Homo sapiens: one gene and its partners. The protein of the gene in region 1 interacts with the protein of each later gene in a pairwise test. Each region holds a gene or a part of one and is shown on either strand. Other genes may lie near its edges.

Evidence for each region.
Region 2: the proteins of CDC42EP2 (region 1) and ARHGAP26 interact in binary tests that used the Homo sapiens proteins (3 or more experiments, as listed by UniProt).
Region 3: the proteins of CDC42EP2 (region 1) and CASS4 interact in binary tests that used the Homo sapiens proteins (3 or more experiments, as listed by UniProt).

The regions. Positions count from the first base shown.
Region 1 is NC_000011.10:65,317,595-65,323,465, reverse strand, and holds the end of CDC42EP2 (cdc42 effector protein 2), read right to left. Parts: intron 2,945-5,871; exon of another isoform or gene 2,923-2,944; 5' UTR 2,568-2,922; coding exon 1,935-2,567; 3' UTR 1,049-1,934; downstream 1-1,048. UniProt on the Homo sapiens protein: Probably involved in the organization of the actin cytoskeleton. May act downstream of CDC42 to induce actin filament assembly leading to cell shape changes. Induces pseudopodia formation in fibroblasts in a CDC42-dependent manner.
Region 2 is NC_000005.10:143,220,820-143,228,638, reverse strand, and holds part of ARHGAP26 (rho GTPase-activating protein 26), read right to left. Parts: exon of another isoform or gene 7,216-7,819; intron 6,282-7,215; coding exon 6,193-6,281; 3' UTR 1-6,192. UniProt on the Homo sapiens protein: GTPase-activating protein for RHOA and CDC42. Facilitates mitochondrial quality control by promoting Parkin-mediated recruitment of autophagosomes to damaged mitochondria.
Region 3 is NC_000020.11:56,456,863-56,461,304, forward strand, and holds the end of CASS4 (cas scaffolding protein family member 4), read left to right. Parts: intron 1-1,477; coding exon 1,478-1,885; 3' UTR 1,886-3,520; downstream 3,521-4,442. UniProt on the Homo sapiens protein: Docking protein that plays a role in tyrosine kinase-based signaling related to cell adhesion and cell spreading. Regulates PTK2/FAK1 activity, focal adhesion integrity, and cell spreading.

The DNA of each region.
Region 1 (5,871 bases):
GCTACCTGGAAGGCTGAGGCAGGAGAGTAGCTTGAACCCGGGAGGCAGAGTTTAGTTAGCTGAGACTGTGCCATTGCACTCCGGCCTGAGCAACAGAGTGAGACTCCGTCTCAACAGAAAAAAACAAAACAAAACAAAACAACAACAACAACAACAAAAAACCCTTCCCTGTGGCTAGTATAAATGTTATCCCTAGTTTTCTCAATAACCCTGTGAGGTAGCTATCAGTGGCTCTTTTTTTTTTTTTTTTTTTTTTGAGATAGAGTCTCACTCTGTCACCAAGGCTGGAGTGGAGTAGCGCAATCTCGGCTCACCGCAACCTCCAGCTTCCGGGTTCAAGTGATTCTCCTGCCTCAGCCTCCCTAGTAGCTAGGATTACAGGCACGTGCCACCATGCCCAGCTAATTTTTGTATTTTTAGTAGAGACGGGGTTTCACCATGTTGGCCAGGATGGTCTCGATCTCCTGACCTCATGATCCACCCACCTTGGCCTCCCAAAGTGCTGGGGTTACAGGTGTGAGCCACCATGCCTGGCCTGCTCCATTTTAGAGATGGGGAAACTGAGTCTCAGGCCAGGTGCAACTCGGAGGTCCACGCTCTTTTGCTGTGTGGTGTCTGCTCTGTCTTCACTCTGGTTCCTCAGTGCCTGTGCTTACATATGAGTTATCTGGCTGGTAGCTCCGATTTGGCTCAGAATCACATCTGATCACATTAATGAGCCCTGACACTCCCTGACCTCCCTGCTAGGCATTCCTGATCACGTTGTTTTCTTCGTAGCCTTTACCACTGCTGGAAATCATCTCTTATTTGTTTACCAATTTAATATCCCCCTTCCAACTAGAATTTAAACTCTTAGAGAGCAGGGATGGCGTCTGCCTTGTATCCCCAGCACCCGGAGCCGTGCCTTGTATACTGGAGATGCTCAGTAAACAGCCGTGGATGGAATGAATCTTGAAGCAGCACTGTTAGACCCTCCCAGCTCCAAGCATCCCTCCTGCATGCTCCCTCGGTGCTCTTAAGCTGGAGAAGCTGTTGGTCCCTTGCACACTTTGTGGTTATTCTTTTATTCTTGGGTGTCCCCCACCAGACCCCAGCTGACTGGGCAGGGATTGGCCCCAGGCTTGGCACAGTGCCAAGCCCACCCCAGTGCTCAGCCACCTCTTGCCAAACATCTGAATCAATGTCACAGCAACACTTGGTTTGCTCCTGTTGCATTCTCATGACAGGCTCAGCGTCAGGTACGACGTTCTTGAGGGCAAGGCCTGTCCTCCACAAAGCCCTCTGGGGCTGGGGTCTCCAGAGGCAAGCCCTCAGCTCTGGGAGACTGTCTGCCTCCGGGAGGAAACCTGGGGCAAAGGGACAGGGAGCTCCGCCACCAGCAGCAGCATGTTTTATTGCAACCAGAATCCCCGGTCACGTGGGGAAGGGATTGGAGCTAGGGATGAGGCAGGACACATCTGGTCCCTGACAGGACACTCCCCGTCCAGGATGCAAAGCCAAAGGCCCGGAACAGCCTGCTCAGTGGCTGAGCCCTGTGGCCAGCTGTGCCCTGTCTCTTCCCCTGCCCCCAGTCAGGGCATCCAACGGGGCAGAGGCAGAAGGGACGTGAAAAGGGGGGTCGGTTTCAGCAAAGCCTTCACCCAGGGACCTGAAGGAAGAAGGAGTATTGTGATGGGGTCCAGGTGCCCCAAGATGCTCAGGGCGCCTGGGCTGACTTCAGGATGTGTCCATGTGGTTATCAGAGGAAAGCGATGGGGCCTGCCCTGCCCACGTGGAGAGGGAGGGAGAGGGGAAACACGGCTCAGAAGGAGAATCACTGGCCAGCGACCATACAGGTGGGATCTTGGGACCCTGACTCCGCCGCCAGGGCCGGGTCCACACCCCACCTCCTGGCTGGGCCCCACCTGGGACCCCAGCCTAGGCAGCCTCGTGTCCTATGTGGGGATCTGCATGCTGTCCAGGTCCTGATCCATGATCTGCAGGACATCATCCAGGATGGAAGGCCCCAGGTCCACGTGCAGGGACAGCAGGGAGCTGGCATTGGACAGGAAGGGCTCCTCGGCCCCTGACTCCGGGGTCAGTCCACTGTTGGGGGAGCCAGTCTCTGGAATCCTCCAGATGTCCACACTCCCTCCCTCCTGTGGGGAAGGCTGAGGGGTCTCCAGGTGCAGGCGAGGGGGCTTGGGTGGAGCCTGGGCTGTGGGCAGGGTGAGAGCCTGGGGTCCACCGATAACCGGGAGGGAGATGGCGTTCTTGAGCAGAGGGGATGGGCCGTCCGGGAGCTCCCGCCCACACACGGTGGCGGTGCGGGTGAACTGGAAGGGGAGGTCGAAGGTGCCATCTTCTTCAGGCCCCTCCACCATGGTCCCCGGCAGGAGGTGGAACTTGCCCTGCAGGAAGGAGATGTCGCCAAACATGTCACTGCCGCCGCCACTGCCAATATGAATGGTGTGGCGGAAGTCCCCCAGCGGTGGGCTGATCATGTCCGAGGACAGCAGGTCCCGAAGCTTCTCCTTCTTGCCCTTGCGACTGCCACGCTTCAGATAGATGGGCACCTTGGTGGACATGGTGACCTCACCACCAGGCCTGGCTGTGAGGCTACGGGCCGCCTGCTGAGACCACACCTCCTCTCCAACCCTCAGCCAGAGGAAACACTCGTTCCACGGGGTGGTTTGCAGGTGCCAGAGCTCGCCAACGGGCTTCTGGCTACAGTGTGGGGGCACGAACAAAGTTGGCCCAAGGAATTAAAAAAGATTAGAGATCAATGAAGTCAGTGGGCTGAGATAACAAAAATCACGTTCTCCCCAAAGGACGGCAAACTCTTCTGAAGAATTGAAGCCAGAAAGGTAGGAACTGTGTGGGCAGCAGTGCACTTTGGTCTTGTCACCGAGGGTTACTTGTCCCCGGTCCAGGGCTGAGGAGCTGAAACACAAAGGGTGCACACCTGTCAGAGACAGCGGGACCAAGGTCAGATGCAAACATCTTTTTTATTTTTAAGATGGAGTCTCACTGTGTCACCCAGGCTGGAGTGCAGTGGCGCAATCTCAGCTCACTGCAGCCTCCACCTCCCAGGTTCAAGCAATTCTTCTGCCTCAGCCTCCTGAGTAGCTGGGACTACAGGCACGTGTCACCATGCCTGGCTAATTTTTGCATTTTTTTTTAGTAGAGACAGGGTTTCACCATGTTAGCCAGGCTGATCTTGAACTCCTGACCTCAAATGATCCGCCCGCCTCGGCCTCCCAAAATGCTGGGATCACAGGTGTGAGCCACCGTGCCTGGCCAGAAACATCTTGTTTCTGGGCCTCTTGTGGTAGCCATGGGATCCTGAGGGGGTGGGGCACTCCCCTTGCAGGGAATTGTACTGGGAGAAGCATGTCTTCACTCTAAGACCTACTGCATCTTATAGACTCACCACCAGGGCCAAGCTCCTCCCCTTACAGGTGGGAAACTGAGGTGGGAACCTGAATGACAGGTCCAAAGTCACACAGAAAGTCCTGCTCTATTCTCTTGCCCTGGGTCCCCGGCAAAGTAGGTCTCATCACCCTTATCCAGGTACTCATACCATACCCCCCACCTCCATTGCACATCACCTGTGCCCCACAATGTAAGTGCCAGATTGTGGGGGGCCTCACAAATGGCCTTGACTCCCTACTTGACCAAGGACAGAGAGCTTTGTGACCACTGTCTCTCCCGCCCAAGCCTGGCGGGGACCTGGAGCACAGCAGATGTTTGGCCAAGGGTGCTGGGTGGCTGGCACTTCCCATTTGACCCAATCATGTCCCACCTGGAGGTGGGGTCGTGTTTTCTCCTCTGCCTATTAAGAGTTCCTTATGGGTAGGGGCTGAGTCTAGGATACTTTCTGGCCTTCCTCCCTACCCTGGCATCTAAAGAGAAGGTGGAGTGGGGAGTACATATATTTTTTAGTTGAGGGGGCCTCTGCTCTGTACCTGAAATTCTTCTGCGCTCTTTGCAGACACATCTCAATTAATCAACACAACCACCCTATTATCAACCCTATTTAAAAATCAGAGGTGTTGGGGCTGGGTGCAGTGGCTCACACCTGTAATCGCAGCACTTTGGGAGGCTGAGGCAGGTGGATCACGAGGTCAGGAGATCAAGACCATCCTAGCTAACATGGTGAAACCCTGTCTCTACTAAAAGTACAAAAAATTAGCCAGGCGTGGTGGTTCATGCCTGTGGTCCCAGCTATTTGGGAGGCTGAGGCAGGAGAATCGCTTGAACCCCGGAGGTGGAGGTTACAGTGGGCCGAGATCGCCCCACGGCACTCCAGCTTCAGCTACAGAGGAAGACTCCATCAAAAAAAAAAAAAAAATCAGAGGTGTCAAAATTCAAAATTGAACCTGAGGTGAACCTACAGGTGAAAAATTTTGGAGGATTCCCACAGGGCATTGCAGAGAGAGAGAAGCAAAATGCAAAAACATAATATAGATCATCCATTTATTGAAAGCATTGACTACCTACCTGCCTCCCTGCTCTGACACATATGCATGTTGTGTAACTGCATGGGTACAGGTCTGTGTAGAATTCTGTCCTATACAAAAAAAAAAAAAAAAAAAAAAAAAAAAAAAAAAAAAAAGTCAGGTGCAGTGGCTCACTTCTGTAATCCCAGCACTTTGGGAGGCCGAGGTGGGCGGATCACCTGAGATCAGGAGTTCGAGACCAGCCTGGCCAACATGTGGAGACCCCATCTCTACTAAATATACAAAAATTAGCCAGGTGTTAGGCCGGGCGCGGTGGTTCACGCCTGTAATCCCAGCACTTTAGGAGGCCGAGGCGGGCGGATCATGAGGTCAGGAGATCGAGACCATCCTGGCTAACACGGTGAAACCCCGTCTCTACTAAAAATACAAAAAATTAGCCGGGCATGGTGGCTGGCGCCTGTAGTCCCAGCTACTCGGAAGGCTGAGGCAGGAGAATGGCGTGAACCCGGGAGGCAGAGCTTGCAGTGAGCTGAGATCGCACCACTGCACTCCAGCCTGGGGGACAGAGAGTGTCTCCATCTCAAAAAAAAAAAAAAAAAAAATTTGCCAGGTGTGGTGGCGCAGGTCTGTAATACCAGCTACTCGGGAGGCTGAGGCAGAAGAATTACTTAAACCCGGGAGGCAGAGGCTGCAGTGGGCCTAGATCGCGCCACTGCACTCCAGCCTGGGCAACAGAGAGAGTCTCCGTCTCAAAAAAAAAATTTGCCAGGTGTGGTGGCACAAGTCTGTAATACCAACTACTCAGGAGGCTGAGGCAGAAGAATTGCTTGAACCCAGGAGGCAGAGGTTGCAGTGGGCCTAGATCGTGCCACTGCACTCCAGCCTGGGTGACAGAGTGAGACTCCGCCTCAAAAAAAATAAAAAAAATTAAAAAAAAAATTTAAAACACAGAGAAAAATCTAGAAGGCCAGCCCTAGGTTGTCATATGGGCTACCTTGACTAGGGTACACAGCAGGGATGGGGGGTGGGGTCACTGATATGGGAGGAAAGGAGTCATCAATAAAAATAACCTATAATATTTTGGTCCCATGACTATGACATGATAAATGTGTGTAATATATATAAATATGAAAAGATGGAACAGTGGTTTTCTCAAAGTGGTAGAATTTCAGGTTGATGTTTCCTTTCTTGTTCAGACCTCTATGAATTCAAATTCTTACTAATAAGCAATGTATTATTTATATGCACATATTTATGTAGTCAGAAAAAAATTAAGCTATTTTTAATGTGTAAAAATAAATAGCTATGAAGGGGTGTCATACTGATTTAACAGAAAAAAGAAATGAAGCAAGCACTCCCTCTGCTTGAGGGTGGGGGACGCACATGGGACCTGATTGGTCCAGTACACATGAGCCCAGATGTAGACTCA
Region 2 (7,819 bases), on another chromosome or scaffold:
TATACTCAAAGATAGCCTAAATTATGAATTAAACATGCAAATATTTTCTTTTCCAAAATGTGGACAAAATGTCTTTTAGAGTGCTTTTGAACACTAGCCTTAGCTACTAAGCATTCATGGGTTTGATCTTTCTTGCGACATGACTTTAAGTAAGTTAACAAAAAATGTAGCTGTAGACAGTAATTGTTTGATAAATATGAACAGTTTTAAAATGGCACTGAATTTACATCTTTAATCATTTTAATAGGCCATCCACAGCCTCTCTTGTGTCTCTAATTCTCAACCTCCGAGTCTTAAAGGCTGTAAAGGCTCAGAAAGTGCCAGCTCATGTGGGTCTCTGTAAGTGTCTATGTCTTCATAGATGTAAATATGTGCTGTATACACACACATACACACACACATAAATATACTTTAGAATCAACAGATGTGCATTGTCAGATACAAGGTTGATTCTGGCATCTGGATAACCAAGAAAGCTGCTTTTAGGTGTCTGGACAACTTTGTAGAAATGGTTGACGTAGAACAGTATAGAATGTCTTAACCTCTCCAGGACTGCTCCAGGTAACTGACATTTTGTTTATCAATACTCTGGTTCTGACTAAAGTGAATTTTGACATGGACATGTCATGTCATGTCATACCCACACAAGGGTCTAGGTCTATGCTAAGCCTTTGCTCTCTAAAGCATTCCACCTTGAGAGACGTTTTCACTCTGTAATGTCTGGCACAACTTTTGTAAAAATATTAGCTGTGAAATTTTTCTGTGATCGCTTTTTTTTTTCTCCTCAGTAAGCATAATATTTATCCTTCTAAAAAAGTATCCAAAGCTCCTTAGGATGGTTCACCTTTCTCTTTCTCTCTAGTCCTGGTGTTACTTTGCATCCAACACTTTTTCCTCTCAATAATACAGGTGCTTCCACTGGAAGACCACATTTCAGCAAGGACTGGCTCTGAATGACACCTGGATTCTATGGCCTTTCCCTCCACTTTGGGAAGCTCTTTAGTTAGACAGGTACTGTAGGCGGCAGGAGAAAAAAAGCTAATTATTACTTGTTGGAGTCTTGTCTCAGGCATGCTGTGGGGCTGTGCAAGATTCGCTGCTCTGCTGCTGTTGTCATTTTGATGCTACAATTACAGAGAGGCGGTTCAGCACCCAGCCGATCGGTGTGGCTGCCAAACACATTTGAGCATGACAAGATAAATTTGTTAGACACCAGCACAGGGTGGGTGAGAAGACATCCTGCTGACTTTATAAAGTGATGTGGGGCAGGGTTGTCGAGGTAAGTGATGATTGTCAAGTTTGCCAGAGATGATAGATAACTCCTTTGGCAGAACACCTAGGTCATTCCTTTTAAAGTCAGGTAGCTAAGAGGCTGTTTGGTTTCTGCAGCGCTGGCTACCTACTTGGGGAACATGGTTGCTCACAAAACATTCAGTACTTGGGCAAACTCTGGGTGCCATGGTGGCCACTGCTGTCTCCGGGAGTGCCATGTCCACAAAACTCAGTCATCCAGACTTGCTTTTGGGAGCAGAAGCCAGAGGATGACAGGTGCCAACAGACAGGCAGGGATCAGGTTATCTTTGGCTTCTTCTTTCTGTCTTTCTCCCCCTCAACTGTGAATGCTTTTGGAGCCTCTGCAGTCAAGACAGAGCTTTTACTGAGACAGCAGTTGCCATTTTCAGCTGATAGAAACTCAGGGGATAGAAGGCCTTCCCTTTGAGCCGCAGGTATGGCACACACAACTCTGCAGCTCTGGGCAAGTGCCTTGGGATGCCCTTGTCACTAGTATGGCTCTGTCCTGCTAATGCCAGTCTGTCAATACTTGATTGTTCATTCTTTCTCTTTGCCTCTCACCGAAAAGCACTCGGTGAGAGGAAATGAACTGATATTCAAAAAGACAGTGTGGTCTGACATAAGAAAACACATATTGGCCGTATAAATACTTCAGACATTAAGCTAAAGACTGGCTCCAATTCTAGGACACCAAGGCAGGCCACAATGCACAGGGTCCATCCCTATATATGTTTATTTTGAAAAACAGGAGAAAAGATCTTCTGTCTTGAGCAAGTCAGGGTTTTACTTGCCTGGGGGCAGGGATTTGAAACCAGCTGTCTTCTCCTGGCATGGCATTCTTTTTTTTTTTTTTTTTTTTTCCTTTGAGACGGAGTCTGGCTCTGTCACCCAGGCTGGAGTGCAGGGGCGTGATCTTGGCTCACTGCAATCTCTGCCTCCTGGGTTCATGCCATTCTCCTGCCTCAGCCTCCAGAGTAGCTGGGACTACAGGCGCCCGCCACCACACCCGGCTAATTTTTTGTATTTTTAGTAGAGACGGGGTTTCACCGTCGTAGCCAGGATGGTCTCAATCTCCTGACCTCGTGATCCGCCCGCCTCGGCCTCCCAAAGTGCTGGGATTATAGGCGTGAGCCACTGCACCCGGCCATGGCATTCTTTAGCTACGAAATTTTGTTAGTAACCTGAAGGAAGAGTGAGAGGCTGACCTTAATACCCCTAAAAGATTCAGGCTATGGCTAAGTGATCCCTGGGTCTTACAAAGGAAACTGGAGGCTACTGGGAAAGCTCAGGGATCCTGGGCCATGGTCTTCCACTCTGATAACCAATTCATTCTCCTCATCTGCCCTAAAGTTTCCTGTTCACACAGAGAGAGTCAGAGGTAGGGGGCATGGATAGGGGAGAGAGTAAAATCTTTAGTCTTCAAGTTCCTTCCTACTCATTGGCTCATATTCTGAAGTTTATCCAGTTTTGTAGCTAATAGGAAGGAGGGGAGCCTGGCTGGGCAAAGGGAAACAGAGAAGCCATCTGTCAAGGGCACCGCACAGCCACAGGGAAGCTGGGGAGGGGGTACCTGAAAGATCCCATTGGCAGCAGCTCATGGGCACTGCACAGACACACGGAAGCTAGGGAGGGAGTTACCTAAAAGATCCCATTGGCAGCAGCTCTGTTTCTCCCGATTTCAAATCAGAGCCAACTCAAGAGGGAGGGACATGCTTCCAAGCAGTGAAGCTGGGGCCAAATGTCTACAGGGATGCTTCGTGAGGCACCCCCAAAGCAAGGATCTTGGCCTTCTGTTCCTCCACATGAGCTCCAGGTAAGTTTATGATGGGACAGATTACAACTTCAAACATCAAATGTGGTCGGCCGCAGCGGCTCACACCTGGAATCCCAGCACTTTGGGGGTCTGAAGTGGGCAGATCACTTGAGGTCAGGAGTTCGAGATCAGCCTGGCAAACATGGCAAAACCCCATCTTTACTAAAAATACAAAAAACTAGCTGGGTGTGATGGCTCATGCCTGTAGTCCCAGCTACTTGGGAGGCTGAGACAGGAGAATCACTTGAACCTGGGAGGTGGAGGTTGCAGTGAGCCAAGATTGCGCCACTGCACTCCAGCCTGGGCCACAGAGTGAGACTCCATCTCAAAAAACAAACAAAAACACAAATAAAAAACCTCATCAAATGTGTTAAAAGCATGATGTTGGTCTCTCTTTGAGAAGCGTAATAGTATGTGAATGCACATCCCCTGAGGCCTCCATTTCCCAAGGTCTTCTTGTCCTCAGGTTCACAGATCTAACCTACTAGTATACTCCCTTTCTTCTCGAGTTTTCCCCAGTGGCTTTCTTGAGTTCTGTCTTGGTCCTGTCCATTCTTAATTCTCATTCCCTGATTCAATGGTAGTGTCTCGCTTGCTCCTGGGTGAGTTCCCGGAAAAGAGCTGTATAATCCTTGAGCTGATAAACTGAGTAGTGAATCACCATGACAAACCCCTGTTAACTTTAAAACCACCTGTAAAGCTATGACGGCACAATCTATACCCCTCCTGGAGTCTTCCTCTTCTTTTGGGATCACGGGAATTGGAGGTGAAAGGGAAGAGTTTTAAAATGTTTAGGAGAAGGGAAAGCAGCAGCACATTGAGAACTGAACATTCTAAGAAGCTGGTTCTTTAAGAACTTACAGACGCACACAAAATTTGAAAACTAGCTTGTCCACATTTCTAAAGCCTCAGAAGATGTGGAGAAAAAGAAGTAAAGAGCACAGCAACTGACTCATCTCTTTCTGGCCTGATATCTTGGGGGTACCAAGAAATACACCTGAGAAGAAAGACAAAAACTCGAATGCCTGACCCCACTTATTTAAATCCTGAGCTTCATCTTACTACTAAGTAGGCATTCTTTGAAAAACTCATTGCCTGGAGATGCTCTTCCCATCTCCAAATCCAAAGCCCAAGGGATGCTTAAAAACACATAAAGACTGAACACCACTGATGTGTCGTGCCCACCAACAGGACAGCAGAGAGCAAGGCCATAGAAATGTCTTCTCTTTCCTTCAGGCCGAAGCGGGGACAGTGACCTTGACTCTCTTCAGCTTTGCCTCCCCTCTCTCCCTCTTAAACATACTTCTTCAGCAATCAAAGCCTAAGTGTGTGAGCAACTAACTTAAAGAATATCAAATATAAAACTTTGCCATATAGTATTTCAAATCACTCTATTTACAAGTTTATCTTTTCAAAAAAAAAAAAGTAAAAGATACAGTAATTCAACACAATTCAAGTTTTTCTTTTCTTCTTTAAAGTTCCCTAACAAGGAATTCCAGAAACAGGAAACACTCTGAAGCAACGCTGCCATCCAAGGGGCTCCTGGGGAGCTTGACGGTCCATCGGTTTGTAGTTTGTCTAGAGTCACCCTTGCAATGACATTCACATGTGGAAGATACGGATAACTCTGTTGTTTGCAGGCCAAGTGAATTTGAAATCTCCAGGTAGTACTTCCCCATCCAAGACAGTCTTCCACAAGATCCAGCCTCTTTTCACCAGCAAATTCCCTTTTTCAGAGGGTACTCATCCCACCCTCCAACCTTGGGTTTCTTCCTGAATCACAATGGCCTATATTAGTCTCAAGCCTTGAAAGACTGAGAAATAATTCCCTTTTTCAGAGTGGCAGTGAACATAGATGTGCTTTTAAACTATAGGCCATACGGTTAGCCTAGGAATTAACCTTGAAAACCACCACAGCACCAGTGTTCAGCAGCCCAGAGTAGGGCAAGGGGGCTGGCCAGTGGTGGGTTAGAGGCAGGCAAGGGTGGGAGCAGAGATGGGTGAATGGGAGGACATGGGGAAACCAGTCAGATGGCATCACCCATTGGGAGGCAGCATCTTACCCTTTAAAAAACAAACATCAGTTGCATGGAGGAACAGAAATATTAAGACTATGTAATTTAATCTCAAGAGGTTACTAGGGTGTGCTCCAAATATATTCCGATGCTGCTGAAATTAATCAGAAAGGGAACAGTTCCCAGCTACTATCCCATCTGCCTCAAGTAGACCACCCTAATTCCTTGATCCTGTGCTTCAAGTTGTTAGAAAACCATTCAAAAAAAGTGTACCAAAAAGGGGAGAAAAAAAATGTGTCATGCAAAGAGGATGTGTTATTTTATTTTTTTGGTTTGGTTTTAGAGTAGGTTGGGTTGCCGTGGTTACTAGGCGATGGATGGCAGCCCTTGGTGGCAGAGAGGTTCCTAGCCTGGGAGGGAGAAACGCAGGGTGTGTGTGTTCCCGTGCATGAGAAGACTGGATTGTATCTCACTGATGACAGGCCAACGGCTGCTTTAGAGATGGTGAGAGATTGGATCTTATATAAACAGTGTTTTAACCCTCTTCATCCTGCATGCAAACAGATCCAGCTGCCTGTAGCACTTTAAGTCTCAAGTACTGAGAGGTGGGGTAGAGAGAGTGCCTATTGTAAACAAAAGCAATGGATCCAGCCTGGATCTCAGCGCCAATTTCTTCACCCAGCCCCAGCAGGCTTAGCTACACAGTGTGCTCTCAGGGACTATTTCTATCTGACTTCCTCTTTCTGAAGGTTGGGCGTTTGGACCGTTGAAACAAAATGAGTGCCCCCTATTCAGGGTACTCATGAGAAAACGGCTTTGCAAGTCTTCCTCTTAGTTATCAAATGCTCTCCTCTGCTGATTGACTTCTTTTCTTGCAGTACTGATGCATGTTGGCTGAGATGATCATGGAGATGAGTGACACCAGAGCTCACAGAAACATTCATGTTGACAGGTAGCAACAGAGTCAGTCACGCTGCATTTCTCAGTGGCAAAGAGAAATGGCCTCGACACTGGAATCAGCAGTTGTCATGGATACCATGTAAAGCTCAGCAGTTCTGCTGGGGCCCACGGTTAGAGGAACTCCACGTAATTCTCAGGGATGAGGCCAGTCTTTCCGTTCAGAGTCCCCTCCAACCAGCCAGGCTCCTGAGATGGGTGAACTGTACAGGAAGGGGAGAGAAAGCGAGAAGAGATGGCATTACAGATAGAGCAGGCGGCAGATGTGTGTGTGGGGTGTGTGTGTGTGTGTGTGTGTGTGTGTGTGTGTGTGTATGAAGGAAGCTTGGACAATGAGTACAATCACTTATTAAGTTACATCATTCTAGAAGTTTAAACCAAAGGTTCTGAACCTTTTGTGGAATATAAGCCTTCTGATGAAAGCTGTCCTGAACTTTCTTTACAATGAAAAAGGAAACAGACACAGACATACAAAATTTTGTGTACAATTTTAGGGGTTTCACGGATTTTCTGAAGCTCCTGGTTTAAACTACAAAGAAGTGACAGATTCCTACTCTTGTTAGAGGGCAACAGTTGTCCTGGTCCATCCATACATGTATCCATCCTTCCATCCTTCCTTCCTTCCTTCCTTCCTTCCATCCATCCACCCACCCACCTGCCCAGTATCAACTATGTACTCAGTGCAGTGCCCATGGAAGACTGCTAAGAACTACTCTTTAAAGATATCCAGCTTCTAGAGGCTGGGCCTGGTGGTTCACGCCTGTAATGCCAGTACCTTGGGAGGCTGAGGCAGGTGAATTGCTTTAGCCCAGGAGTTTAAGAACAGCCTGGGCAACATGGCAAAACCTTGTCTCTACAAAATATACAAAAACTACCTAGGTTTGATGGAGCGTGTCTGTAGTCCCAGCTACTTGGAGGAGGGGGAGTGCCGAAGCGGGAGGATCGCTTGGGCTCAGCAGGTCGAGGCTGCAGTGAGCCGTGATTGCACCACTGCACTCCAGCCTGGGCGACAGAGCAAGACCCTGTCTCAATCAATCAATCCAGCTTCTTGTCATCATCTTACTTTCCTTCAAATCCTTACCCCCTGCTTCTAATTTCCTTGCAAATTTTCTGGGGTTTTTTTTTTTTTTTTTTTTGGTTGCTGTCATTTTGAATAGCCTTTGAATAGCCATTTCTCTGTTTCACTCACACCCTTTCTTAGTTTTCTTTCCTGTTCTCTAGATTTCCCCCTCCTCTATATACCAGTTTGAAAATTCTTCTCTTCCTCCCTCTATTGCCCTTTGATTTTTCAGTATCCAAAGAATATATATCTACTTTTGTGACATCATGATCCATCTCCATGGAAACCATTGTGATATTATAAAGATTATCTAAAATCCAGCTGAGTCTGCACAGTAGTCAATAGCAGGAAGGAAGAGAGAAGGAATCATGGGACTAAGAGGTGGGGGATGTTCATGCTTGTCAACTGAAGATGTACAGATCACTCTGCAGTGAGGCAGGACATTTACTCTTAATGTGTTAGGAAAACTCCAATTTTCCAAGATTATTTGGAGAGAATAGATTTTCCCCTATTCCCTTCCTGGGCTAATTAAATGACTTCCTGAGCTTGTTTTAGAAAAGCATTTCCGCTCCGACACTGCTACAGAATTCTAGTTTCAGTTTGTAGGGAAAGACGCAAGAACAGAAACCAAAGGAGACAAATGGGAGGCAGCAAAAGAATCAGCCTTGAGGCTTCCAGAAG
Region 3 (4,442 bases), on another chromosome or scaffold:
TTTTGGTAGAGACAGAGTTTCGTATGTTGCCAAGGCTAGTCTCAAACTCCTAGGGTTAAGCGATCCTCCTGCCTCGGCCTCCCAAAGTGCTGGGATTACAGGTGTGGGTCACTGCACTCAACCTGCTTCATTCTTATACTCCCTGCTTCCAAGAGTCCATGTGAACTGACATTTCAATCTTTCCTTCACTTTCTATGACAAAGACAATCATTGTTTTCATTTTCCAAATATGCAATTCTAATAATGAAGGTGCTTCTTCGAAGTATGCCTTCCTCTTCCTTGTCTAACTTCCCCTCCAACCCTACTAGGAGACATAACCCCCTTCTGAAAAAATCAGTTTTATGCCCTATCTGTCTGAATGCTTCCGGGCTATGAATTTTGAGATAATAGGTAAATGCGAGCGTGTGAAATTTAATGGAAAGAAAGCAAGTTTCAGACCTAGAGCTCCAGATCTCTCATGTGCTAATGGAATAGCCGGAGGCAGCCTTTTCTCTTCTCTGAGCTTCACCTTTCAATTGTTACCTGGAGTTGTGGCCACTAAGTTAGGTACTGAAAATCTTTGAGAGTATGTAGGATTTGGGAGAAGTTGGTTCCATTTTCCAGAAAATAAAATTCATGAATGTAAAATTTTGATGAAACCTTATTAGCAAATATGATAAATATTTTAATATTAAGGCAAAAAATAAAATAAATAATATTAAGGCAGATAGGTCAGGGTATTTAGTTGCTTCTGGAAATGTTGAGAGTTCTGATATATCTCTGATACTGAAATCAGAGGATTTTTGGCTTTTTAAATGTTTTTAAATCTGTTCTTTGAGAAAATTTTAAATCTCATCAAGTTTTTGTGCATTTTTAAAAGTTACAAATTTAGCTGGGTGCAGTGGCTCACCCCTGTAATCCCAGCACTTTAAGGAGGCTGAGGTGGGCAGATCATTTGAGATCAGGGGTTCAAAACCAATCTGGCCAACATGGTGAAACCCCATTTCTGCTAAAAATACAAAAATTAATTGGGCATGGTGGCAGGTGCCTGTAATCCCAGCTACTCAGGAGGCTGAGGCAAGAGAATTGCTTGAACCCAGAAGGTGGAGGTTGCAGTAAGCTGAGATTGCACCATTGCACTCCAGCCTGGAAGATAAAGGAAAACTCTGTCTCAAAAAAAAAAAAAAAAAAAAAAGTTATAAATATAGTCATTGCCAATGTGTTTCTTAAAATGGGTTTCTTGTAGTTGGTTTATTGAGATGATTGAATAAAATTATATATGTATGTATTACAATATAATATTGTATATATTATATATTACAGTGCTTTGAAAACATTAATTTGTTAGACAACTGTTGCAGTATTGGGCTTCCCAAACCAAACCATGCTTTTTTAAAAAAAATAAAAAGTCTTGCAAATCTAGCCAAAACAGGAAAGGGCAGACAGCCACAGCCCATTGATTGAATCTCCTATCTATTTTCTTCCTTCCCTTCTTTAGAATCCTGGCCCTCTTATACCTCAGCCTTCGAGTCAACAGACTCCTGAGAGGAAACCCCGCTTATCTGAACACTGCCGGCTCTACTTTGGGGCGCTCTTCAAAGCCATCAGCGCATTTCACGGCAGCCTCAGCAGCAGCCAGCCCGCGGAGATCATCACTCAGAGCAAGCTGGTCATCATGGTGGGACAGAAGCTGGTGGACACGCTGTGCATGGAGACCCAGGAGAGGGACGTGCGCAACGAGATCCTCCGTGGCAGCAGTCACCTCTGCAGCCTGCTCAAGGACGTAGCGCTGGCCACTAAGAATGCCGTGCTCACGTACCCCAGCCCTGCCGCGCTGGGGCACCTCCAGGCGGAGGCTGAGAAGCTGGAGCAACACACGCGGCAGTTCAGAGGGACACTGGGATGAGGACTGTCTACCTCCCTTCCTCCTCTGCTCACCTCTCAGCTTCACACCCACAACTTGTGCAACTCTGCCCTATGGGAAAAGCCAGCCGGGGCATACACCAATGAGCTGAAACAGACCTGGTGCCCAAAGCTGGTAGTACCAAGTGGCTAAGCAACCCCAGGGCATTGACTTACCCCGCAGGGGGTCAGGAAAGAGAGTCAGGTATGAGGTAAAGACCTTGTGAAGTTTAGCATATATGGAGTATGCAGTATCAGCTTGAAGTGACTTCGCAGAAATAATATTTTATATTGATTAAATGTGTGCATGTTTTGTTTGTTTTTTGAGACAAAGTCTCACTCTGTCACACAGGCTGGAGTGCAGTGGCGCGATCTCAGCTCACTGCAACCTCCGCCTTCTGGGTTGAAGCAATTCTCCCGCCTCAGCCTCCAGAGTAGCTGGTACTACAGGTGTGCGCCACCATGCCCAGCTAATTTTTGTATTTTTTTTTAATGAAAGGTCTCACATATTTATTACTGAACCCAGCCAACCAATGCATTCATAACAGATTCAGAAAGAAAAAATATATTCCCAATAAAACATGTACAATTCTCCAGAGAGCGGTGACATTTTCAGCTTGATGTGGTAACATGACTGTGACCTTCAGACAGCATAAATATGTGTGCCCTCTCATGTGCAATTCCTTATAGGGCTAGCTTGGTTCTTCTTCAATGTCTCCTTTTGGAGTTGTACCTGATTTTATTACCAGTTTTCATCTGAATCCACTGGGGAGTGGGGCGATTTTGTTTTAATTTCTCGGTCAGGAATCACTTAATCCTGGAAGTCTTATGAGAAGACATGGCAAGAAGCAGAGTCAAGCACACACCACAATGGCAGAGAAAGGAAGAGCTAATTTTTGTATTTTTAGTAGAGTCGGGGTTTCACCATATTAGCCAGGCTGGTCTGGAACTCCTGACCTCAGGCCATCCCCCGCCTCGGCCTCCCAAAGTGCTGGGATTACAGGCCTGAGCCACCATTCCTGGCATGTACGTGTTTTAAATTCACTCATTTAACACTTATGTATTGGATGCCTACTACATGCCAAGTTCTAGGTGCTGGAGACATAGCAGTGTTTCAGAGGGCTTGCCCTCTTGGAACTTATGATCTAGTAGGGGAGTCAGGCAGTAAAGCGGTGAAGAAATACATACACAGTATAGCAGGTGCCAGGAAAAACGTAAGTAGGGGAAGTGCAAGAGAACTTATCTTCAAATGGTTAATTTTTATTGCATCCATTAGATAATAGAGTAAGTTTTTTGTTGTTTTGAATTGAATTAGTTCTGTGAGATTGGTACAAATTATGTATGTGTCTTGCACCCATAAATATATATTTTTGCTATGTTACTTTAACCTAAAGATAGATGTTATATTTACAACATAACATGATCTGTTGGGTTCTCTATTAATTTATTTCATACATTATAGATTCTGGGTTGATAAATTCTGCTCAATTTGAAAAATTTTATATTTTGTCTCAAATCTGTTACAATTTATATTGGTTGGTGCAAAAGTAATTGCGGTTTTTGCCGTAGACAGTAATGGCAAAAACCACAATTGCTTTTGCACCACCCTAATAATATTAAATATAATCATGACTTTAAACATCATTTGCAGCATTCTTTTTTTGGAAAAGTCTTTGATCTGTGTCACCCAAGTGAAGCCTCCGATGTTTACTTTTGTCACTCCAGTGCTTCTCCCTGAAGTCTGCAGAGAGATGGAGTAGAGGCCCTGCTCTTAGGCACCGGATTGGTGCTGGAAAACAAAGCCATCACCTGTGGTGGTGCAGACAGGAAGGCGTGGTGTGGACAGGATGCCCATCATTGGGCACAGATATGAAAGTGGCACAGAGCTCCCCTCAACTCAAACCACCTCCTCTTCCTCTCCTTGTAGCTGAGTCCTCAGCTCACGTTGCCATGGTTACATCATCACTTCATTTTAAGTGATGGTCTGGGCCTCCTAAATGCATAAACACCTCTACAGCTTGGAAGAGCATCTCCAGGCTGTAAGTCACCTGAAATGATACCAAGTCCAACTCCTATCTGCTACTCTTTCCTTGGTAGGCACTTGTAAAATGTTGACTGCTGGAGGCTGGTTATTTTTATTAAGTTAGTCTCAGGGTCCTTAAAAAAAGGATCCCATCTTTGTGAGGCTTGGTTCTCTACAACTGGACAGAGGCCCTCCAGGGGGCCTATTCTTTGAACAGCCATGATCTGCATCAGTTAGGACTTCTCTTACAAGGGATAGAAAATCATACCCAATCTGTCTTAAGCAGTAAAGGAAATTTATTAACTCATATGTCTTAAAATCATCCAGAGGCAAACTAGCCGCAAGGCTGGCTGGTTTCAGGGGCTCCAACAGTGTGATCCAGGACCAGTTTCTCGGTCCCACTTGCTCTGGGTTAACCCCCATGATTGCAAGGTGGTTTTCCCAGGTTACACTCTTCTTGATTCTTGGCCAGAGGAGAAGAAAAGGACTTCATTCGGCTTGGACTGGCTTAGATCAGGTGCTGCTCCTGAAAGCTCCA